7 linked regions of the Homo sapiens genome follow. The protein of the gene in region 1 interacts with the protein of each later gene in a biochemical or structural test. Each region holds a gene or a part of one and is shown in the gene's direction. Other genes may lie near its edges. The genes, in order: ISG15, BRAP, NAP1L1, HDAC6, KLHL26, TPM4 and HIF1A.

What was found.
Region 2: the proteins of ISG15 (region 1) and BRAP form a complex in vitro, tested with the Homo sapiens proteins (one large-scale study listed by BioGRID).
Region 3: the proteins of ISG15 (region 1) and NAP1L1 form a complex in vitro, tested with the Homo sapiens proteins (one large-scale study listed by BioGRID).
Region 4: the proteins of ISG15 (region 1) and HDAC6 form a complex in vitro, tested with the Homo sapiens proteins (3 studies listed by BioGRID).
Region 5: the proteins of ISG15 (region 1) and KLHL26 form a complex in vitro, tested with the Homo sapiens proteins (one large-scale study listed by BioGRID).
Region 6: the proteins of ISG15 (region 1) and TPM4 form a complex in vitro, tested with the Homo sapiens proteins (one large-scale study listed by BioGRID).
Region 7: the proteins of ISG15 (region 1) and HIF1A form a complex in vitro, tested with the Homo sapiens proteins (one study listed by BioGRID).

The regions. Positions count from the first base shown.
Region 1 is NC_000001.11:1,012,010-1,015,040, forward strand, and holds ISG15 (ubiquitin-like protein ISG15), read left to right. Parts: upstream 1-1,487; 5' UTR 1,488-1,564; coding exon 1,565-1,567; intron 1,568-1,974; coding exon 1,975-2,469; 3' UTR 2,470-2,531; downstream 2,532-3,031.
Region 2 is NC_000012.12:111,641,646-111,644,801, reverse strand, and holds the end of BRAP (BRCA1-associated protein), read left to right. Parts: intron 1-239; coding exon 240-603; 3' UTR 604-2,656; downstream 2,657-3,156. UniProt on the Homo sapiens protein: Negatively regulates MAP kinase activation by limiting the formation of Raf/MEK complexes probably by inactivation of the KSR1 scaffold protein.
Region 3 is NC_000012.12:76,074,686-76,078,185, reverse strand, and holds part of NAP1L1 (nucleosome assembly protein 1-like 1), read left to right. Parts: intron 1-3,500. UniProt on the Homo sapiens protein: Histone chaperone that plays a role in the nuclear import of H2A-H2B and nucleosome assembly.
Region 4 is NC_000023.11:48,812,067-48,815,566, forward strand, and holds part of HDAC6 (protein deacetylase HDAC6), read left to right. Parts: intron 1-2,373; coding exon 2,374-2,500; intron 2,501-2,608; coding exon 2,609-2,674; exon of another isoform or gene 2,675-2,767; coding exon 2,768-2,827; intron 2,828-2,895; coding exon 2,896-2,985; intron 2,986-3,317; coding exon 3,318-3,424; intron 3,425-3,500.
Region 5 is NC_000019.10:18,668,028-18,672,221, forward strand, and holds the end of KLHL26 (kelch-like protein 26), read left to right. Parts: coding exon 1-1,218; coding exon of another isoform or gene 1,219-1,247; 3' UTR 1,248-3,694; downstream 3,695-4,194. UniProt on the Homo sapiens protein: May play a role in endo(sarco)plasmic reticulum (ER/SR) mitochondrial signaling. May be part of the ubiquitin-proteasome system (UPS) and affect ubiquitination and degradation of target substrates in cardiomyocytes.
Region 6 is NC_000019.10:16,089,995-16,093,494, forward strand, and holds part of TPM4 (tropomyosin alpha-4 chain), read left to right. Parts: intron 1-3,500. UniProt on the Homo sapiens protein: Binds to actin filaments in muscle and non-muscle cells. Plays a central role, in association with the troponin complex, in the calcium dependent regulation of vertebrate striated muscle contraction.
Region 7 is NC_000014.9:61,744,013-61,747,512, forward strand, and holds part of HIF1A (hypoxia-inducible factor 1-alpha), read left to right. Parts: intron 1-692; coding exon 693-801; intron 802-1,678; coding exon 1,679-1,805; intron 1,806-2,921; coding exon 2,922-3,073; 3' UTR 3,074-3,500.

The DNA.
Region 1 (3,031 bases):
ATGCATGTACCAGGATTCCAGTTCCTCTATGTATTCCCCAGTGCTTGTTACTGCCTTTATGTTTATTTTATATTATTTTTTGAGACTGTCTTGCTCTGCTGCCCAGGCTGGAGTGCATTGGTGCAATCTTGGCTCACCACAATCTCTGCCTCCTGGGTTCAAGGGATTCTCCCGCCTCAGCCTCCCAAGTAGCTGGGATTACAGGCGTGCACCACCACGCCCAGCTAATTTTTGTATTTTTAGTAGAGATGGGGTTTCTACTAAAAATGTTGGCCAGGCTGGTCTCAAACTCCTGACCTTAGGTGATCCGCCCGCCTCAGCCTCCCAAAGTGTTGGGATTGCAGGCGTGAGCCACCGCACCCGGCCTGGCCTTTATTTTTATTATTACAGTCATACCAGCAGGAAATAGCATCTCACTGGGGTTTTGATTTGCATTTCCCCAATTAATAATGATGTTGAACATCACTTTACAGCCGTTTCTATGTCATTGGAGAAATGTCTATTGAAGTCTTTTGGCCATTTGAAAATTGAGTTGCCTTTTTTTTTTATTTTTATTTTTTATTGAGTTGTAAGAGTTCTCTATATGTCCTGGATGCTATGCCCTCATCAGATAGATAATTTGCAAATATTTCTTCCCATTCTATGGATTGTCTTTTCACTTTCTCAATAGTGTCCCAGAGTTCATTTTTGTAGAAAATAAAAGATAGGTCTCTTTTATTAAAAAACAATCTGAGGCTCCGGGTGCAGTGGCTCACGCCTGTAATCCCAGCAGTTTCAGAGGCCGAGGCAGGTGGATCACTTGAGCCCAGGAGTTCGAGATCAGCCTGGGCGACATGGCGAGACCCCCATCTCTACTAAAAATACAAAAAATTAGCCGGGCCTGGTGGTGCACCCCTGTGGTCCCAGCTACGTGGGAGGCTGAGGTGAGAGGATCGCTTTAGCCTGGCAGGCGGAGGTTGCAATGAGATGAGATCGTGCCTCTGCACTCCAGCCTGGGCGACAGAGTGAGAGACCCTGTCTCAAAAACACAAAAACAACAACAAAAAAACACCAATCTGAGCAAATACTGCCCTAAACCGAGTGTTGTTATCTCTGGGTAGTTTGGAGTTCTTGTTTCTCAATTAACCATGGGGATGTTTTCCAAGTTTACTAATTTTGCAAGTTGGTAAATGGAAAATGAAACCATTAGTCCATGTGATGACAGCTTTAGTGCATCCTGTGAAGGATCTGGAATGCGCGATATTTAGGTGTTTCCAGGGTGTTGGGTGGGGGTGGGGATGCCGTCCGCTGTCCGGAGTCCCCGCCACTTTTGCTTTTCCCTGTCTTTCGGTCATTCGGTTTTGTTTCTTCCGCTCACTCTGGGGCATGCCTCGGGAAAGGGAAACCGAAACTGAAGCCAAATTTGGCCACCAGCGCAGGCTCGGCGGCACGCCCCCTGACGTGTGTGCCTCAGGCTTATAATAGGGCCGGTGCTGCCTGCCGAAGCCGGCGGCTGAGAGGCAGCGAACTCATCTTTGCCAGTACAGGAGCTTGTGCCGTGGCCCACAGCCCACAGCCCACAGCCATGGTAAGGCAGATGTCACAGGTGGGGGGAGGTGGGCTCTGTGCCAGCCAATTTTCGTCTCCCTCCCCCAGCCAAGGTCTCCCAGGGGTGCAGGGAGAGCGGAGCTGCTCAGAGCTTGGCCAGGTTCTAAGTGTGCTCCTGAAAGCAGGTCACCCCTGAGATCCTCAGGGTGGGGCACAGAGGGGCACCCTAGCAGGTAAAGGGAGGCCACGGGATGGCGGTGGGCAGCTGGCCTTCTAGTAACGAGCCCTCAGTGCCTTCTGTGCCTGGGGTCCCTGCCGGCGGGATGTAGAGGACAGACAGGAGGGAGCACTGTCCCTGGGTACAGGAGCTCGCCCTGCAGCCAGTGCCTTGTGTGTGGTGGGCCTGGGGCTGGCGCCGCAGTCTCTGAACCTGTGTGACGCCTGCAGGGCTGGGACCTGACGGTGAAGATGCTGGCGGGCAACGAATTCCAGGTGTCCCTGAGCAGCTCCATGTCGGTGTCAGAGCTGAAGGCGCAGATCACCCAGAAGATCGGCGTGCACGCCTTCCAGCAGCGTCTGGCTGTCCACCCGAGCGGTGTGGCGCTGCAGGACAGGGTCCCCCTTGCCAGCCAGGGCCTGGGCCCCGGCAGCACGGTCCTGCTGGTGGTGGACAAATGCGACGAACCTCTGAGCATCCTGGTGAGGAATAACAAGGGCCGCAGCAGCACCTACGAGGTACGGCTGACGCAGACCGTGGCCCACCTGAAGCAGCAAGTGAGCGGGCTGGAGGGTGTGCAGGACGACCTGTTCTGGCTGACCTTCGAGGGGAAGCCCCTGGAGGACCAGCTCCCGCTGGGGGAGTACGGCCTCAAGCCCCTGAGCACCGTGTTCATGAATCTGCGCCTGCGGGGAGGCGGCACAGAGCCTGGCGGGCGGAGCTAAGGGCCTCCACCAGCATCCGAGCAGGATCAAGGGCCGGAAATAAAGGCTGTTGTAAAGAGAAATGGCCGCCTCTGTGTCTGTGCTTGCCCCTCCTCCAGCGTCCGCCTCAGACCCCTGGTGATGGGGCGGGAGAAGTCAGGAGGGAGAACCCAGGGTCCATCCTGGTGACCAGGCCTGGGCTGCCAAGTGAAGGGATAAGGGTTTGCAGTTACAGCTTCGAGGGATCAAAATAGGGAGCCCCCCACCCCGAAACTGAAGTAAGACAGCTCTCCCCACCCTTTGGGAAATTAACTTCTAGGAAAAGAAAAAGAGACACAGTTGCTGGAGCCCATCCTGCCTGTCCTCCATCTGGGACAGCAGACGGCTTAGGCAGGGACCCGCCTGATCAGATCAAAAGGGGAGGCTCCCAGTGGGCCCCTGGGAGCAGTAAGGGGTGAGTCCTTGGGGCCTGCCCGGTGGGCTGTGAGGCAGGCTCTCCATAGGAACTGGGGGCTGGGGACCTCAGCCGTCCCTAGCCCAGCCTACACAGCCTGCTCCACCTGCCTGGGCTGGGCTAGGGAGG
Region 2 (3,156 bases), on another chromosome or scaffold:
CTGGGCAACAAGAGCGAAACTCCGTCTCAAAAAAAAATACACTTGTGTTAAGTAGAGCAAAATTCTTGCTTTGCATAGCTGATTGCGATGGCAGAAAACCATTCTCCCTCACGATGGGAGAAAGGGGTCTGTCCTAAAGGGATTCTGAGGTCATGGTTTCTCTGTTCAATCCCAGAGCAGAAAGGGGACTGTGTCAGCAAATGAAAAATGTGCTTTTGTCTTCCTTTGTTTTTCAAAAGGTGCACTCAGCTAAACACAAAAGTGGCCAAACTCACCAACGAGCTCAAAGAGGAGCAGGAAATGAACAAGTGTTTGCGAGCCAACCAAGTCCTCCTGCAGAACAAGCTAAAAGAGGAGGAGAGGGTGCTGAAGGAGACCTGTGACCAAAAAGATCTGCAGATCACCGAGATCCAGGAGCAGCTGCGTGACGTCATGTTCTACCTGGAGACACAGCAGAAGATCAACCATCTGCCTGCCGAGACCCGGCAGGAAATCCAGGAGGGACAGATCAACATCGCCATGGCCTCGGCCTCGAGCCCTGCCTCTTCGGGGGGCAGTGGGAAGTTGCCCTCCAGGAAGGGCCGCAGCAAGAGGGGCAAGTGACCTTCAGAGCAACAGACATCCCTGAGACTGTTCTCCCTGACACTGTGAGAGTGTGCTGGGACCTTCAGCTAAATGTGAGGGTGGGCCCTAATAAGTACAAGTGAGGATCAAGCCACAGTTGTTTGGCTCTTTCATTTGCTAGTGTGTGATGTAGTGAATGTAAAGGGTGCTGACTGGAGAGCTGATAGAAAGGCGCTGCGTTCGAAAAGGTCTTAAGAGTTCACTAACCTCACATTCTAATGACCATTTTGCCTTCCTGCTTGGTAGAAGCCCCAACTCTGCTGTGCATTTTTCCATTGTATTTATGGAGTTGGCGTATTTGACATTCAGTTCTGGGGTAGGTTTAAGATGTTAAGTTATTTCTTGTAACCTCAAAGGTAAGGTTATCTAGCACTAAAGCACCAAACCTCTCTGAGGGCATAACAGCTGCTTTAAAGAGAGGTTTCCATTGGCTATTAAGGAGTTATGAAAACTCCCTAGCAATAGTGTCATATCATTATCATCTCCCCCTTCCTCTGGGGAGTGGAAGAATTGCTTGAATGTTATCTGAAAAGAGGCCTGGTAGTAAACCAGGCCCTGGCTCTTTACCAGCAGTCATCTCTTCTTGCTCTGGGGCCAGCCAGGAAAAACAAACAACCCGGGGCACATTGGGTAGACTCAGTGTAGGAAAAATGGTGGCAGCTCCACTGTTTATTTTTGGTGACTTCGTACATCATTATGAACCGCAATTAAGGAGGAGGCTTAATGGCTGTTCCCAAACTCAAATCTCAGAGTGGGTATCCTAGCATCTAGCAAGACTGAGTGGGGAGATTTCTCATCCGTGTGAAAATGTAGAGTGAGGCCTCTGACTAGCTAATTGTGTATTTTGTTGGGTTTAGTATTTTCTAAATGTTTACAAAATATTGGGCTGCATGTTCAGGTTGCAGCTAGAGGGAGCTTGGGCAGATTTTCAATTACGCTTTCAAGATATAACCAAAAGCTGTTTCTAAATCCTAAAATTAGAATTTCAACAGAGCCCCCTTTAGAACAGTCATATAACGCTTGTGTGGGCCAACAGAGGGGCTGTGTACTCTCTCTGGAACCATAAATGTCAAATAATTTATAACCTGCAGTAATTGAGCAAACTTAAAATAAGACCTGTGTTGGAATTTAGTTTCTTGAAGAGGTAGAGGGATAGGTTAGTAAGATGTATTGTTAAACAACAGGTTTTAGTTTTTGCTTTATAATTAGCCACAGGTTTTCAAATGATCACATTTCAGAATAGGTTTTTAGCCTGTAATTAGGCCTCATCCCCTTTGACCTAAATGTCTTACATGTTACTTGTTAGCACATCAACTGTATCACTAATCACCATCTGTTTTTGTGGGATGTGCTGCAGCATTTCCCAAAAAACTTTACGTGTAATGTTGCAAAATGAATGTACTCAGACATTCTTAATTTTTACTTAGGGCAGACCAACTCTTTGAGTCTCTCTTGGACTTATATATACAGATATCTTAAGAGTGGGAATGTAAAGCATAACCTAATTCTCTTTCCTATAGAGATTCTATTTTATTTAAAATCTATTTTTACACTAGTTAGAATCCTGCTGTTTTGGCCAAGTACTTGTCTTGCATGTCTGACCTTGCAGAAGCTGGGGTGGATCATAGCATACTAATGAAGAGAATTAGAAGTAGTTTACAAAGCTCGCTCACTCCTCATTTCTCTGTGATCCCTTCTATCCAGTGGCCCCACCACCACCTGGGAAAACAGATTTTTCAGTACAGGTGGGATAAATGCTCTGAAAGGCTGTGCCCAGAGGAATGAGCAAATAGGCAAGTGTTTCCAAACTACTTGGAGGTTTACAAAAAATATGTCCCAGAAAAAAAAAAAATCTTACCAAGATACGTAAAGAAAAAAAAATTTTTTTTTAAACAGTCAAAGAGTCATGTTTGAATTTCACAAAATCACATCAGACAGAAGTTGTTTTCTTCAGGAGGGAAATGAACCACTTAATATACCCATACTACCTTGAACAATGAAATTGAATTAAAATAGCCAAACTTTGAAATTATTCTGCCCCGTGTGAAATGTGTGTCTCTGACTGACATTTGCTTGGGAGCATGTCTCTAATAATCTAAGAAAGTGTCGGCTGGGCACAGTGGCTCAGCGCCTGTAATCCCAGCACTTTGGGAGGCTGAGACGGGCGGATCATGAGGTCAGGAGATCGAGACCATCCTGGCTAACATGGTGAAACTCCGTCCCCACTAAAAATACAAAAAAAAAAATTAGCTGGGCATGGTGGCAGGCACCTGTAGTTCCAGCTACTTGGGAGGCTGAGGCAGGAGAATGGCATGAACCCGGGAGGCAGAGCTTGCAGTGAGCCGAGATTGCACCACTGCACTTCAGCCTGGGTGACAGAGCGAGACTCCATCTCAAAAAAAAAAAAAAAAAAAAAAAGTGGCCTTGATTTAAAAAGCAACGTAAAAATCAGCCCCTTGGTTGGGTGCGGTGGCTCACATCTGTAATCCCACCACTTTGGGAGGCTGAGGTGGGAGGAATGCTTGAGGTCAG
Region 3 (3,500 bases), on another chromosome or scaffold:
AACCAAAGTTCACGTTGCTGATAATTGGCAGTTGACCTCAGTGCAAAAGTGCCTTCCTTCTGCTCCTGTTTTGCCCTCAGTTTTGGGCTGGTGATTCCTTACTATCTTGTTAGCATTTCAGTGCTTTTAAGATTTTTAACAAAATGTTTTTGTTAAAAAACATCTGTACTTTTAATTCTTTTCCTTTTTTTTTTTTTTTTTTTTTGAGACAGGGTCTTGCTCTTACCCAAGCTGGAGTGCAGCGGTGTGATCTCGGCTCACTGCAGCCTCCTCCTCTGGGTTCAAGCAATTCTCCTGCCTCAGCCTCCTGAGTAGCTGGGACTACAGGTGTGTGCAACCACGCCCGGCTAATTTTTTGTATTTTAGTAGAGACTGGGTTTCACCATTTTGCCCAGGCTGGTCTCTAACTCCTAAGCTCAGGCAATTCGCCTGCCTTGGACTTTCAAAGTGCTAGGATTACAGGCGTGAGCCACTGCGTCCGGCCATATTTTTCATTGGTAGAATTGATCTGCATAATCTAGTTTGTCGCTTTCAGGAATGAAAGTTTTTCACAGAGATCTTGGAATGCAATTTAATGTATAACAAATAAGATTCTCACTGATTTTATTTAATGTCAACTGCAGTAAAATATTAATACAGGTATTAACCTAAACTTGTGTTTCTCAATGTGGTCTACCTGAGAACCACCTCTCAGAAGCTGAGTTTCTTGTTTAGAATGCAGATTTTTGGGTCCCACTTCCTCAGATGTTTTTCTGCTTTATATAGATGATGAAATAGAGCCAGAAGTTGTTTGTCTTAGTTTGTAGATTGCTACAAAGTTGATGTCAGCCCAAATGATCTGACTACAACTGACTAGAAAATTAGGTCTATCTTACAACCAAGAAATACAATGTAGCCAGAATGGGCAGGTTAGAGCAGCCTTCTCTGGAGGAGTAAATGCCTCCTGTTAATGTTCTGTAAATGTTCTGTCTTGGATCCTCTTTACTAAAGTTTCATTTTAAGAATTTAAACTGTAAATGTAATGCTGCAAATGGACATTGAGGTTAGCAGTGTAGCCATTCTGTGAACACATTAAAATGTTACAAAAATTTAAATTTGGAAGTTTTAGGTTTTGTTTCTGTTTTTGACAATTGCTGGGTTTAGTAGACACTATATATTAAACCTAGCAAATCTCAGAATAAATTTGTGTATTGGAAATTATTATATAAATCTGTGTGTTGGAAAACCAAATGCAGTCATGCACCACATAAATACTTAGCCATTATATTAAAGTTGCCTATGGTATTCAATACAGTCACATGCTGTATAGGTGTGTAGCCTGGGAGCAATAGTCTATATCATAGCCTAGGTGCGTAGTAGGCTATACCATCTAGGTTTGTGTAAGTATACTCTGATGTTTGAACAACAATACAATCACCCAGAGACACATTTCTCAGAACATATAATCCACACATGACTGTAATGGTGAATGGGAAATTAGTTCTCATTACCCCCAGTCCCTTCTTTCTCATTAGGTTACTCTGGTTAGGTTTTTGGTGTTTGTTTTCAGAAAGGGTTTATTTGTATTAAAGTATGTGCGTATATGAGTGGAGATATATATATATATATATATATATATATATATATATATATATATTTCCATATCCAAAGGGGATTTCGGCATACATCCTATACCTTGCTTTAGTGTTCCTTCATATCAACTCAGATCTGTTTCATTTGTGACTGCAAAGCATTCCATTTTTGCATATTCCATTATAGTACTAAGTTTATAATAAGCTTTGTGTGCTACCCCAAAGAAGACAACGCTATGATTGTCAAGATCAGATTTAATTCCTGTAATCATGAATTTTGTCAGTTGGGAGAGACAGACCATAGGTCAAACTAATTTATAATTACAGACTGAGACATCTTATGGTGGAAAGAAAAGAAAGCTTTATAGGAGTGTGTGTACAACCAAGAAATCTTACTTAACCGGAATGTGCAGGTTGGAGAAAGCATCTCTGGGGAGTGAAACTTTGAAATGAGAGCCAAAGGATGTGCAGGACTTGTTCAGAGCTGTGGAAGAACCTTCTAGGTGAACATGGAAAGCAAAGGCATTAGATTCTTTATAATTTTTTCATGGTAGAGCTCATAAGTGAATAAATCTGGAGATGGACATATTTTGTTTTTTTAATTTTTATGTTTTTAAGAGACAGTGTCTCATTGTGTTGCCAAGGCTTGTCTTGAACTCCTGGCCTCAAGCGGTCCTTCTGCTTCGGCCTCCCAAAGTGCTGGGATTGCAGGTGTGAGCCATGGTGCCTGGCTGAGATGGACATGTTTAAGGCTTTTGATATTCCTATTGTCAGGTTGCTCTCCAGAAAAGATACGGGAACACTAGCTGGAAATAAGGATGCATGTGCACTACAGGTTTCCCTGTATTAAAAAGAAGTTATTGATGATGTGGTAGACAAACTGGAATCCTACTTGGATTTCTTTGATGTCAGAGTTCAGTATTTTTCTTATTTTTGATTAATATTCATAATTGCTAAACACTTTGTAAATGCTGACTCATTACCCAGCATCACTAGAAAAATTCATCAGTACTATTAGGAATTATTTATAACAAATACAAAATATTTACAGAGTTAGATACATTAGGAAGAATAATTTTCTTTATAATTACTCTAAAGGATAGATACTAGGTCAGTAATAATGTTTCCCCCAAATATTAGCACTTAACTGCTAAAATCAGGATGTTTTCCATTTTTAACTCTTTGTTCATAGGCATAATACGTTGCTATGAAAGTAAACACATGCAGGATTTTGTGAATTAAATATGTATTAAGATTTTAATTTTTACCAGATAACTTGATTCTATTTATTCATAATTTTTTTAGAGACAGGGTCTTGCTGTATTTCCCAGGCAGGCCTTGAACTCCTGTGCTCAAAAGATCTTCCTGTCTCTTGGGCAGCTGGGATTACAGGCTCTTGGGCAGCTGGGATTACAGGCTCGTGCCACTGTGCCTGGCTAAGATAAACTTGATTTTAACATGGATTCTATCTAAACTTGGTTTAGTTTTTTTTGGTAATCTGTAGATTACCTGTGGCATTCTACCATTTTTTTCTGCCTGGATATAACACATCTGCTTTAAGATTTGTTTTTCCAAAAGCAGTATTCTCCAGGTTCATACTAATCTTTTAGTGAGAAGGAACTTAGGATATCCTCTGGTGAGTCTTAACAGTAAACTTACTCAGGTCTGGTAACCACAAGTCTTGACAATGTCCCTAGCATATCTAGGGGAAGCTGGAGGTTGGTGGTTGTCAGTTATCTAACATGAGGTACATGTACATTTGGAGAGATAGGGAAGGCTTACCTAACATTAAGATTGGGACCTAGAGCTTTTGAAATAGTCTAAATGGCTATTTGATCCAGGGATTAAGTCTTTTAAAAAGATATCCAGAGGGCATAGTGAGTACAGTAGGCATCAGATTTTGGTTTTCTTAAACATGAATTACATAAA
Region 4 (3,500 bases), on another chromosome or scaffold:
TTTAATCTGCCAAGGGTCTGTCATTCAAAGAATTCTTTAATATCATTAATCATTCTTTTTGTTTGAATAAATGCATAGGAGGCTATAGCTGTGTGTTCTTTCATGGGTACACTATTGATTACACACACAGATGTGAAACACTGTGAATATATTCAGTGCATTCTTCCTTATTAACAAACGTGTGTAAACAAACAAACAAAAAGAACATGTCCATGCCCTTGGATCTCCCAGCTCCCCATCTCTCAGTCTCTGAACTCCAGCAGCAGGGAGACAAACTGGATAATCCTTAAAATACTGTTGTGAAGACAAGGAAAGCAGATGATCTAAAACTAAGTAGTTAAAAGAAACAAGTAACTTTGTTGTATTGGTGATTCAGTGAGTTGGCTCTTCAGAAGGGATTTTGTGTGCATTGACCTGGATCTGTACTGGATTTCTCCAGAAAGGAAACTTCAGCTTATCTTGGGTGCCCCCTTATCCTGCTCAGCATGAGACAGAGCACCCTGGGGCCCCTGGAATCTCAAAGTCTACTTTCTAGAAATTCATTGAAGTCTCTTATTCTCTGACATCCTTTCCACTCTCTCTTTCTGGGTTGCTGTTTGTTTACAATTTCTTTACTGTATTTTGAATGGGGTAGTAGGAGGTTGAGGAAGTAAACCTGTGCTATCAATCCACCATTTAACTTGAAGGTGGTTGAACTTATTTTGAATTTCCCTTCTGTTTTCTTTTTAAACTTAGCTTGAGTGCTAGTTCTGCTGTTTATTGACTTTGATGGCTCTCTTTTAGAGTCAGCTTTCTTCAGATCTTTTCTTTCTTCCTGTCTTCCCCAATGATATTTTTTTCTTTTCCTTTCTTTTTTTTTGAGACAGAGTCATGCTCTGTCGCCCAGGCTGGAGTGCAGTGGCCCGATCTCGGCTCACTGCAACCTCCGCCTCCTGGGTTCAAGCAATTCTCCTACCTCCACCTCCCAAGTAGCTAGGATTACAGGCACGCGCCACCACGCCCAGCAAATTTTTTGTATTTTTAGTAGAGACAGGGTTTCGCCATGTTGGCCATGCTGGTCTCGAACTTCTGGCCTCTAGTGATCCGCCCACCTTGGCCTCCCAAAGTGCTGGGATTACAGGTGTGAACCACTGCGCCCAGCCCTCTGGTGATAATTTTTATGTCCTACTGTGTTTCTCTTCCTCTAATGATTAACTTACTAAAAGTTTAGAACCAAGATTTATCTATCAATGTCAAAAATAAAACAATCATCCTCCACCTACTCAACACCAGAGCTTTTGCTTGTTTTTATTCCCCAATTCCAAGCTCTTTTCCCTCAATTTTAAGAATCTTTCTATATCACTTGCATTAAATTTCACAACTACATTATCAACCCATTAAAATGTGACTCTTAAGTTTGTCTAGATTCAATGCATACCACTATTTCTTGCATTTCCCTAAAAAAGCTGCCTTAGATCCTCTCTGGAACAAAGCAGGGGGTAAATGACCAGATAGAAGGATGGATGGATGATAGATTATTCATTTTGCTTTCCCCAGTCAGAATTAAGCCCTCCCATGGCCCCTTGCTGGGCTTTCTGTCAAAACACGTGCATCGCATCTTTTCAGTATCTGTTTTGCGTGTCGGTCATACTCACCCCTCTGAGTGCTCATTCTCTCGCCTATAAAATAGAAGAAGTAGTAGAGGTGGCCTGTAAGGCATTGGGGAGGAGGAACTGCCCTTTCACTGGCCTCATGACAGCCCCAGCCAGCACCCCCGCTCTAGTTCCACCCACAGAAGCAAGTCTCACCCCTACCCCCCAGGTCTCTCCACTTCCTGCTAGAGAATCACCCAGCTCCCCAGCCTGGCTTGAGGCTCTTTTCAGCCTTAGCTGGCTCCCCGCAGCTAAGAGCCCCATGCTCCATTTGGGCCTCCAGTGTCACAGGGTTTGACCTGCTGTTACTACTACCTTTGTCATAGGGGCAGGTAGTGGGCGGACATGATCTAGAGTACCCCACAGAGTCAGGAGCCCCCATGATCTGAGATAGACCCTAGAGCTGAGCCTGAAATTGGGTGGGCACTGAGGGGGCAGCGATGTTTGCTGAGGGAGAGGTTCTGGTGAGAGACTAAATGAATGAGCGAGTGAGGTAATGGATAAATAAAGATAAGAATGAAAAAATGGTAAGATGATTAAATTGGTGACTGAATGTAAGGGTAAATTAATGGAAGAATGGATTCATGGATTAAATAATTAATGGGGAAATTAATGAATGAGAGAATGAACGAGTGGTTGAATGGGGAAATGAGTGGTAGAGGAAACTGGCAACTGTTGGGTTGGGGGTGTCTATGGGGATTGACTTCTCCAACTCTCTTACCTCTTTTTCTTCTGCCCCCAGTGTCCTCTATTTCTCCATCCACCGCTACGAGCAGGGTAGGTTCTGGCCCCACCTGAAGGCCTCTAACTGGTCCACCACAGGTTTCGGCCAAGGCCAAGGATATACCATCAATGTGCCTTGGAACCAGGTCAGCATCTACCCACCTCTGCCCCCAAAGTGAGGCCCAGCCCCGCCCTTCTGTCAGCGGCTCGGGACAGGTGGCTGAACATCCCCCATCACACTCCTGTGTCTGCAGGTGGGGATGCGGGATGCTGACTACATTGCTGCTTTCCTGCACGTCCTGCTGCCAGTCGCCCTCGAGGTCCTGGGGATCTGGGGTGTGTTGGGAGGAGGAGTGGCCTTGAAGGTTAGGCTGTGAGGGTAGGTAGCCTCATGGAGTCTGTTCCCCCTTCAGTTCCAGCCTCAGCTGGTCCTGGTGGCTGCTGGATTTGATGCCCTGCAAGGGGACCCCAAGGTAAGGCAGGCTCCCTGGGGCGGCAGGTGGGTTGCATGGAGCCAGGCTGACCCTCCATGTCCCCCCAGGGTGAGATGGCCGCCACTCCGGCAGGGTTCGCCCAGCTAACCCACCTGCTCATGGGTCTGGCAGGAGGCAAGCTGATCCTGTCTCTGGAGGTGAGTGACTCACCTTCGTCCCTCAGCCTGTGGATCCTGGAGGGCTTAAGAACGAAGCTTTCAAGTCCAACAGGAGTTCCTGGCCCAGGAATTCACTTACTAGCTGGACAACCTTGCATAAGTCACTTCACTTCTTTGTGCCTCCGCTTTCCTTCTATAAAACGAGCATAATGTAATCACCTCATATCATTGTCCAGTGAATTCAGTGAGGCACCCTTCTAAGTTCCTTGTTGCTTGACATGTGGTATGCACTCTCTTATTATCATCATTATTATTATTCCCTGGTCATGTCTGGTCCTTTCCTGATCCCCCTTCACAACTCCTTGCCCCAGGGTGGCTACAACCTCCGCGCCCTGGCTGAAGGCGTCAGTGCTTCGCTCCACACCCTTCTGGGAGACCCTTGCCCCATGCTGGAGTCACCTGGTGCCCCCTGCCGGAGGTGAGCCCCGGTGGAGGAGGGGAAAGCGGGAGCCTCACTGCCCGCCCACATTCCTTGACATCATATTTTCTCCCTG
Region 5 (4,194 bases), on another chromosome or scaffold:
TTCTTCCTGCAGAGCAACCGGCTGCAGAGCTGTGCCGAGATCGACCTGTTCCGCGCGGCCGTCCGCTGGCTGCAGCATGACCCGGCCCGGCGGCCGCGCGCCAGCCACGTGCTCTGCCACATTCGCTTCCCGCTCATGCAGTCGTCCGAGCTGGTGGACAGCGTGCAGACGCTGGACATCATGGTGGAGGACGTGCTGTGCCGCCAGTATCTGCTGGAGGCCTTCAACTACCAGGTGCTGCCCTTCCGGCAGCACGAGATGCAGTCTCCGCGCACCGCCGTGCGCTCGGATGTGCCCTCGCTCGTCACCTTCGGCGGCACGCCCTACACCGACAGCGACCGCTCGGTCAGCAGCAAGGTCTACCAGCTGCCTGAGCCGGGAGCCCGCCACTTCCGCGAGCTCACGGAGATGGAGGTAGGCTGCAGCCACACGTGCGTGGCCGTGCTGGACAATTTTGTGTACGTGGCCGGGGGGCAGCACCTGCAGTACCGCAGCGGCGAGGGCGCAGTGGACGCCTGCTACCGCTACGACCCCCACCTGAATCGCTGGCTGCGCCTGCAGGCCATGCAGGAAAGCCGCATCCAGTTCCAGCTGAACGTGCTGTGCGGCATGGTGTACGCCACGGGCGGCCGCAACCGAGCCGGCAGCCTGGCCTCCGTGGAGCGGTACTGCCCCCGGCGCAATGAGTGGGGCTACGCCTGCTCGCTGAAGCGCCGTACCTGGGGCCATGCTGGGGCCGCCTCAGGGGGCCGCCTCTACATCTCGGGTGGCTACGGGATCTCAGTGGAGGACAAGAAGGCCCTGCACTGCTACGACCCCGTGGCCGACCAGTGGGAGTTCAAGGCGCCCATGAGCGAACCCCGCGTGCTACACGCCATGGTGGGTGCCGGCGGCCGCATCTATGCCCTCGGGGGCCGCATGGACCACGTGGACCGCTGCTTCGACGTGCTGGCTGTGGAGTACTATGTGCCGGAGACGGACCAGTGGACCAGCGTGAGCCCCATGCGGGCCGGCCAGTCAGAGGCCGGCTGCTGCCTGCTGGAGAGGAAGATCTACATCGTCGGGGGCTACAACTGGCGTCTCAACAACGTCACGGGCATCGTACAGGTGTACAACACGGACACCGACGAGTGGGAGCGGGACCTGCACTTCCCGGAGTCCTTCGCAGGCATAGCCTGCGCCCCCGTCCTGCTGCCCCGGGCCGGGACCAGGAGGTAGCCCCCAAGACCCCCGGGACCCTGGCCTGACCGCATGTTGTCTCCAAGTGGGGCTTGGCGAATGCACGTCTGCCTGAGAACCCCAGTGCCCCCCTTCGCCCGGGCTGCCCTTGAGGGGCCTGCTGCGTTGATAAGCCCCCCTCCCAGGGGTCCCTCCCTCCCTCCTTCCCAAAGCAGATCCTGGCTGCGAGTCCATCCGAGGGAGCCTGCCGGCAAAGCGTCTGACATGTGGTGGCAGCAAATTCGTCCCCGGGGTGGTTTCCTCGCCTGGCCCCCGAGTCCCCACGGGCTGGCGGGTGGAATCCCAGGTCTCCAGGGGGTCCCTGTGCAGCTCCATCTCACTTCTCTACTGCCTCCCAGCCCCACGGTTTCAGGCATTCAGATGTGAGCTCATCAACATTGAACCCAAAGTCGGTGGTATATGACTCACCCTCCTTCCAAGTCTCCTGCGCGCGTGTTTTTAAAATAAACTCACCCGAAACGTCCGTAACACACGGACCTCCAGGAGCAGTGAGAGGTGGCTTAGAAGCCCCTGGTTTGGGGTGGGTGGAGGAGGAGGGCACGTGTCTGCCTCCCCTGGGGTGCCCTCCTTCCCCCATCCCAAGCTGCTGAGGGGAGGCCCTGGTCATGCCTCAGTTCCTGCCTTCATCTGCTTTCCGGAGGAAAAACCATATCAACTCCTAGAAACGCTCCTTAGGGGCTTGGGACCTTCCATTTGGCACTGAGCATCTTGTGGGGCCTTAACTGGCTGAGACATCCCGGCCCTCTACATTTGCCCTGTTGGCCAGGCAGTCCCCTTCCCGCAATTGGAGGGCGACGCTAACTTCAGAATCCCATAGTGGCGCTTGCCGCAGGTCTGGTGGGGTGTCTTTTTTCTCCTCCCTCCTTTCCACCCCTCCGCGCCCTGCCACTCCCTGGCCTGCCCTGTTTTTGGGTCAACATTGCTACGGAGCCAGCAGTGAGGCCTTTCCCTTCAAGGGCTCTGTGGTATCTCTGGCCACATTTGTTCTAATGTCTGAACCTCTAAATCTTTTCTTTTTGATTGGTTTTACTGTTTTTAAGAAGCCAGCACTGCTGTCTCATAGATGGGATTTGTACTCTTGGGGCAACTTAAAGTGTCTCTCTCGCTGCTAACAGACGATTGATGTCTTGTCTCTGTGACCCACTCACCATGTAAAGAATTAACCTCCTATCTTAGCAGACATCGTCTCCTAATATTTCCCTTTATTTAATAAAAATGTTATGGTGAAGAGATGGAGCCGGCCCAGCACTGAGCTTGTGCGGCTTGGGTCTGATTGGTCACAGATTCCTCGTGTGTCCTCCGCGTGTCTGGGGGCTCCTCTCCCCCGCCTCAACCTTTTCCAGCCTTTCAGAGGAGTCGGCAGTGGGCTGGGCTTTGGCTCAGGGGCGCAGAGGCAGCAGGAAGCGTGGCCAGGACTTTCACCCTGGCGTTTTTTGTTGTTGGTTTTTTTGTTTTTTTGAGACGGAGCCTCGCTCTGTCACCCAGGCTGGAGTGCAGTGGCGTGATCTCGGCTCACTGCAACCTCTGCCTCCTGGGTTCAAGCAATTCACCTGCCTCAGCCTCCCAAGTAGCCAGGATTACAGACGCAGACACACACCACCACACCCGGCTAATTTTTGTATTTTTAGTACAGACGGGGTTTCACCATGTTGGCCAGGCTGGCCTTGAACTCTTGACCTCAGGTGATCCACCTGCCTCTGCCTCCCAAAGTGCTGGGATTACAGGTGTGAGCCACCATGCCCGGACCAACCTTGGCACTTTGGAAGAGCCTTCAGCCCCCTATTCTCATCATGGCCGGCCAAACTATGAACTGGGCTGCCCAGAGCAGGCCACTTATCAGTTGCAGGTTAGCAGAGAAAGCCTGATGTTCCCGGACGGCCTTCCCAGAAGGGAGGCCCTGGGATATCACACACACATGGATCTCCATAAGTTGCTGTGCCTGCATGCCTGGCGCTCCTGTGTGGCAGCCATCGGGGCTGGGGTAACACTAGAGGCTGAGGGGGTGGGCAGTGCTAAAATAGGAACATGGTTGGGAACCTAAAAGAAGCCCACACTGTCAGGGGCATCGAGACAAAAGCCGAGTTCCCTGGGGACTTACCAGAACATTCCAGCCCCACCCCCGACCTGAGCTCCCCCAAAGAGAACCCTTCCCCACTGGAGGCATGGCCCCTTCAGGGGAGCAGTGAGAAGCTTTGCCAGCTGCAAGTCCCCTGGATCAGCTCACACCTCAGAACATCTTGTCCCCAGTGAGCTGGCAGGGGCGCCGGCCCAGGGCGGGGGGCGCTGCTGTATCTAACCGGATCGATTGTGCATAACCGTCTAGGCCGGTTCGTGGAATGTTCGTGGGGCCCCCTGCCCCTCCCTCAGCCTCCCCCCGCATCCCCCCAAGAAAGGAAAATTATTTTTCGTATTGTAAACTTTAAACATGAAAAAGCTGTTTTTAATTTAGCAGAAACTGGCTTGAATCTTCACTTTGTGAACGTTTGTGTCCTTCAGAGGCAGAATATGCCTGCGCACACTCGCACATGCTCATGCACACACCTGCACACGCATGCCGCAACACGCACATTCACATGGCCGTGCTCGTGCACGCCTGCACACGCATGCTTGCCCATACCCACGCATTGCAGCGCGTTCACACGCTCACCCGCACACAGTGAAACACAAGCTCACACATATGCACACACACACATATCTGTGCATGCACCCCTGGACCAGCGTAGCCCAATCTGCCTGGCGGCCCAAAGGGGTCTGGAGCCCGGCACCGCCCCGAGCCTGGGGGAAGCCTGTCTACTTCCAGATGCCCTGCCTACTCGCTGAGGCCTGGACGCCGGCTGCAGGAGCCTCCCTTGCACCTGGGCTCAGGCTGTGGGAAAACGCTGTCTCTCGGGACGGTCAGATGCAGGCCCGCAAGAGGGAGGCCAAGTGCGACTTCTGGGGCCTCTCAGCAAGTGA
Region 6 (3,500 bases), on another chromosome or scaffold:
AATTTTTATAATTTTTGGTAGAGATGAGGTTTCACCACATTGGCCAGGCTGGTCTCGAACTCCTGATCTCAAGTGATCTGCCCGCCTCGCCCTCCCAAAGTGCTGGGATTACAGGCATGACCCACTGCACCTGGCCTAGAGATGAGATCTTGCTCTGTTGCTTAGGCTGGAAGTGTAGTGGCGTGATCATAGCTCACTGCAGGCCCCAAACTCCTGGGCTTAAATAATCCTATCACCTCAGCTTCCTGAGTAGCTAGGACTTGCAGGCATGTGCCACTACTCCAAAACTGTATTTTTTTTTTTTTTTTTATAGAGCACAGTCTATGTTGCCTAGGCTGGTCTTAAACTCCTGGCCTCAAGTGATCCTCCCACCTTAGCCTCCCAAAGTGCTGGGATTACAGGCGTGGGCCACCGTGCCTGGCTAATTTTTCTAGTTTTTGGTAGAGACAAGGTTTCATCATGTTGGCCAGGCTGGTCTTGAACTCCTGGCCTCAAGTGATCCTCCCACCTTGGCCTCCCAAAGTGCTGGGATTACTTTGGGAGGCCGCCGAGCCTGGCCTCCTGTTCATCCTTTGAGCTTCTGCTTAAACATCACTTCTGAGAGTCCTTCTCTGATTTCTCATCTAGGTTAGGTATTTCTCTGCTGTGTAGCCCTGTCTATACTTTTGCTGGCATTATGATTTCTTACATTTATTATAGTTACTCCATTAATTGCATGCCTTCCTTGCTAGATTGTAAGTTGTAAGGACAGGAACCATGTCATCTTGTTCAGAGTTGTGTCCCTAGTACTAGCATTGTGCCTGGCATATATCTGTAGTGTGTGTGTGTAATTTTTTTTTTTTTTTTTTTTTTAGTAGAGATGGTGTTTCACCATGTTGCCCAGGCTGATCTCAAACTCCTGGCCTCGAGTGATCCACCTGCCTCTGTCTCCCATATGTGCCAGCCCTGGCATATATCTGATACTAGGATGTGTAAGGAATGAATCCAGTTGGTGTGTGTATGCCAGACACTGCCCCGGGCCAGGGGGATAGATGTAACACCACTAATACCTCAGCTGCTTTGTTTTGTTTTGTTTTGAGATGGAGCCTTGCTCTGTCGCCCAGGCTGGAGTGCAGAGGCACGATCTCAGCTCACTGCAACCTCCACCTCCTAGGCTCAAGCAATTCTCCTGCCTCAGCCTCCTGAGTAACTGGGAATACAGGCGCACACACCACGCCCAGCTAATTTTTGTATTTTTAGTAGAGACGGAGTTTCACCATGTTGGCCAGGCTCGTCTCAAACTCCTGACCTCAAGTGATCCACCCACCTCGGCCTCCCAAAGGGCTGGGATTACAGGTGTGAGCCACTGTGCCCAGCCTGGCATCTGCTCTTGAAGAGCTCAGAGTCGAGTCTAGTGGAAGGGATTGACAAAGTCACAGAGTGCTTTGGGAATACAATAGAGGGACCTTGGTAGGTTGTGAACGGTGTCACCAAGGAGGCGACATTTAAAACAGCTGTAGGTCCAGCACGGTGGCTCATGCCTGTAATTCCAGCACTTTAGGAAGCCGAGGCGGGAGGATCGCTTGAGCTCAGAAGTTCGAGACCAGCCTGGGCAACATGGAGAGATCCCGTCTCTACCAAAAATACAAAAACTAGCTGGGCATGGTGGTGCATGCTTGTGATCCTAGCTACTTGGGAGGCTGAGGTGAGAGGATCACTTGAGCCTGGAGGGCGGAGGTTGCATTGAGCCAAGATTGCCCCACTGCACTCCAGAGTCAGGCTTCAGTCATGACTTGATCACTTAATAGCCATGTGACCCTAGGCAAAATAATAACTTCACCTTTCTGTGACCCTTTCCTCCCCTATAAAATGGGATTACAGATACCAGGCTGTGATGCCATTAACTATGTCTGGCCCATGGTAAGCAGCTAATAAGTGTTAGTTATTATTGGGAGGCCGAGGCAGGCGGATCACCTGAGGTCAGGAGTTCGAGAGCAGCCTGGCTGGCCATCGTAGCGAAACCCCATCTCTGCTAAAAATAACAAAAATTAGCTGGGCATGGTGGTGGGCGCCTGTAGGCCCAGCTACTTGGGAGGCTGAGTCAGGGGAATTGCTTCAGCCTGGGAGGCAGAAGTTGCAAGTCACAGTGAGCCGAGATCGTACCACTGCACTCCAGCCTGGGTGACAGAGCAAGATTCTGTCTGAAAAAAAAAAAAAAGAAAAGAAAAGTATAATTTCTGATGGGTCATCATGGGGAGGGGAACATTCCATGCTAAGGGGTGCATTCATGGACAGGGACTGGGACTCAGGAGTCCACAGATTATGATCAGGGAGTGCCTGTCACCCTGGGGAAGGTGGTGGAGAATGGGGTTGGAAATACAGAGGGGGCCTTGAGTAACAGATTCCCAGTTATCTCCCTTTCTTCGCCATACTTTTTATCTCAAGTTCTCAGTTTAGGCCTTCTGATCAATACCATCCTACAGGACTCTCCCCAACATCCTCCACATTTCACACATATTTCTTCTGCTGGGGAAAGGTGCCTGCCTCTACTCTGCCTACTTTTTTTTTTTTTTCTTTTTGAGATGGAGTCTCACTCCATCGCCCCAGGCTGGAGTGCGGTGGCGCCATCTGGCCTCACTACAGCCTCCACCTCCTGGGTTTAAGCAATTCTCATGCCTTAGCCTCCTGAGTAGCTGAGATTACAGGCACCCACCACCACACCTGGCTAATTTTTGTATTTTTAGTAAAGACAGCGTTTCGCCATGTTGGCCAGGCTGGTCTCGAACTCCTGACCTCAAGCGATCCACCCGCCTTGGCCTCCCAGAGTACTGGGATTACAGGCGTGAGCCACCGTGCCTGGCCTGCTTACTTCTTTTTATGCTTCTTCCTCCTTTTTTTTGAGATGGGGTCCTGCCCTGTTGCCCAGGCTAGAGTGTAGTGGTCCAATCAGAGCTCTCTGCAGCCTTGAATTCCAGGGTTCAAGCCATCTTCCCTCCTCAGCGTCCCCATTAGCTGGGACTACAGGTGCTCACCACCATGACTGGCTAATTTTTAAATTCTTTGTAGAGACGGGGTCTCACTATGTGACCCAGGTTGGTCTCAAATTCCTGGGCTCAAGTAATTCTCCCACCATGGTCCCCCAAAACACTGGAATCACAGGTGAGAGCCACCACACCCAGCCCTCCTTTTCTTTCTTTCTGTTTTTTTTTTGTTTTTGTTGTTGTTGTTGTTTGTTTTTTTGAGATGGAGTCTTACTCTGTCACCCAGGCTGGAGTGCAGTGGCGTGATCTCGGCTCACTGCAACCTCCACCTCCCAGGTTCGAGTGAGTCTTCTGCCTCATCCTCCCCAGTAGCTGGGACTACAGCTGCATGCCACCAAGCCTGGCTAATTTTTGTATTTTTAGTAGAGACGGGGTTTCACCATGTTGGCCAGGCTGGTCTCGAACTCCTGACCTTGTGATCCACCAGCCTCAGGCTCCCAAAGTGCCAGGATTCCAGGCATGAGCCACCATGCCTGGCTG
Region 7 (3,500 bases), on another chromosome or scaffold:
AATGAACTAATGAACTTGAAATGTTTTATAAACTGAAAATGCTATACGAATGTGAGATTGATCTTGTATTTCAATAGTCCCAACAATATCACTGCATTGTTATATTAGGTGGAATAAAAGGACAATATTTAACTGTTTTGACTCTACAATAGTGTCAATTTAGTTGTGTTCAGCTCTATTTTATAAAATAGGGATACGCATACTGTAGAAAATTTCCTGTTAAATTAAGCTTTGACGGCCAGGTGCTCACGCCTGTAATCCCAGCACTTTGGGAGGCCAAGGTGGGCAGATCACTTGCGCTCAGGAGTTTGAGACCAGCCTGAGCAACATAGTGAAATCCTGTCTCTACAAAAATATGTATATATAAATTAGTCATAATCCCAGCTACTTGAGAGGCTGAGGTGGGAGGATCACTTGATTCCAGAGGCAGGGCTTGGTTGCAGTAAGCAGAGATCACGTCTCTGCACTCCAGCCTGGCTGACAGAGTAAGACCGTGTTTCACCAAAAAAAAAAAAAAAAAATTAAGCTTTTACTTTTAAGATGATAAACTTTAGTGATCAGGAAAGTTATCTTATGTATATTATATTCCTTAATATTGGAGAACTAAAGAATTATGTATTTTCTTTAAAAGCGCTCACTGGATATTTTTTTTAAAAACGCTATATTTTCATTTAGAATTTTTTTCTTTTCAGAACTACAGTTCCTGAGGAAGAACTAAATCCAAAGATACTAGCTTTGCAGAATGCTCAGAGAAAGCGAAAAATGGAACATGATGGTTCACTTTTTCAAGCAGTAGGAATTGTAAGTATGAGTAGTAGGTTTTGCTTTTCTAGCTAATGTGCTATTTCGTGTGTGTGTGTGTGTGTGTGTGTGTGTGTGTGTTTCCACGTTTCTTCCAAATAGTAAAGTTATATTTTCAGAAGTTATACATTGGGTTTTTTTACTCTGTATGCACTGGTTTTTAAAAATACAAATGTTTAATACATACATTCTTGGTATAAAAATTCCAAACAATTCCAGTGTATTTTGAGTTAAAAAGTGAAGTTCTCCCCTTACTCCACCCTGAATATCACCACCAATCTCATTCTCTTCCCTTTAAGTTACTTTGCCTTATTAAAAGAACTGCTATTGGCCAGGCACAGTGCCTCACGCCTGTAATCCCAGCACTTTGGGAGGCCAAGATGAGGATCACTTGAGGTCAGGAGTTCGAGACCAGCCTGGCCAACTTGGTGAAACCCTGTCTCTACTAAAAATACAAAAATTAGCCAGGCGTGTTGGTGCACAACTATAATCCCAGCCACTCTGGAGGCTGAGGCAGGAGAATAGCTTGAACCCGGGAGGTGGAGGTTGCGATGAGCTGAGATCAGGCCACTGCACTCCAGCCTGGGTAAGAGAGTGAGAGTCCATCTCATATTTAAAAAAGAACTGCTATGTTTTGGGGTAAGTCAATGGTGGTATAATACATTCTGATATTTTCAAACTAAATTAACTGGAAAGTATTTATAGACAGAATGGTCATAATGGATGACAAATAACTTAAGAAAGAATTCAAAATAATTTAGGGTAGTATTTAAGAAACTGCCTATAATGTTATTAAATTTACACCAATTTCAAGGTTTTTGGTTGTTTAAAAAAAAAATTCAACAAACTAAACTTGAAATAACTTTACTGTTTATAGGGAACATTATTACAGCAGCCAGACGATCATGCAGCTACTACATCACTTTCTTGGAAACGTGTAAAAGGATGCAAATCTAGTGAACAGAATGGAATGGAGCAAAAGACAATTATTTTAATACCCTCTGGTTAGTTTATTCTTTTTGACCTTGAACATCACAAAGACAAAATACATGAAACATTTTTATTTAGGAGCTTTAATCTAAGTGAGAATGACTTTGGTTCCTTAGCAAGATTAAAAAGTAAAGTTGTGGCTGGGCGCGGTGGCTCACACCTGTAATCCCAGCACTTTGGGAGGCCGAGGCAGCCAGATCATCTGAGGTCAGGAGTTGGAGACCAGCCTGGCCACCATGGTGAAACCCCGTCTCTACTAAAAATACAAAAATTAGCTGGGCGTGGTGGCGGGCGCCTGTAATCCCAGCTACTTGGGAGGCTGAGGCATGAGAATTGCTTGAACCCGGAAGGCAGAGGTTGCAGTGAGCCAAGATGGCACCACTGCACTCCAGCCTGGGCGACAAGGGTGAGACTCTGCCTCAAAAAAAAAAAAAAAAAAAAGTACAGTTGTATTTCATGTGATGGTCTTAATACAGAGATTAACATTTCAAGGTGGAGCTTTTCATTTTTAGTAATTTTCTTTGATTTCTCTATGTCCATGTGCTGTCAATATTGATAGAAGCTGAAATTTGTGAACTTTTATGACTTCTTTTTTTTTTTTTTTTTTTTTTGAGACAGGGTCTCGCTCTGTTGCCCAGGCCTGGAGTGCAGTGGCATGATCATAGCTCACTGCAGTCTCAAACTCCTGTGCTCAAGCTCAAGCAATCATCCTACCTCAGCCTCCTGAGTAGCTCGCACTACAGACATGCCTCACCACACCCGGTTGCTTTTTGTAGAGATGGGGTCTCACTATGTTGCCTAGGCTGGTTTCAAACTCCTGGCCTCAAGTGATCCTCCTGCCTCAGCCTGTGCTAGGATTACAGGCATCAGCTTTGATGCCCACCATATTTATGCCTTTTTCCAAATTGTTATTTCTTTGTGCCTTTATTGTATCCTGTAAACATTTCTGACACAGCAACAGTATCACTGGATTATACTTACTTTTTAACATAGTTGTGGTTTTGCCAGGTAAACTAAAAACCCTTCCAGAATTTTGCTTTATTTTCTATGATACCTAACACATTGTGGGTGTTTAATAAATATTCATTGACTAGATGAATGTATACTTAGGTATCTCTTTTGTTTTTCAGATTTAGCATGTAGACTGCTGGGGCAATCAATGGATGAAAGTGGATTACCACAGCTGACCAGTTATGATTGTGAAGTTAATGCTCCTATACAAGGCAGCAGAAACCTACTGCAGGGTGAAGAATTACTCAGAGCTTTGGATCAAGTTAACTGAGCTTTTTCTTAATTTCATTCCTTTTTTTGGACACTGGTGGCTCATTACCTAAAGCAGTCTATTTATATTTTCTACATCTAATTTTAGAAGCCTGGCTACAATACTGCACAAACTTGGTTAGTTCAATTTTGATCCCCTTTCTACTTAATTTACATTAATGCTCTTTTTTAGTATGTTCTTTAATGCTGGATCACAGACAGCTCATTTTCTCAGTTTTTTGGTATTTAAACCATTGCATTGCAGTAGCATCATTTTAAAAAATGCACCTTTTTATTTATTTATTTTTGGCTAGGGAGTTTATCCCTTTTTCGAATTATTTTTAAGAAGATGCCAATATAATTTTTGTAAGAAGGCAGTAACCTTTCATCATGATCATAGGCAGTTGAAAAATTTTTACACCTTTTTTTTCACATTTTACATAAATAAT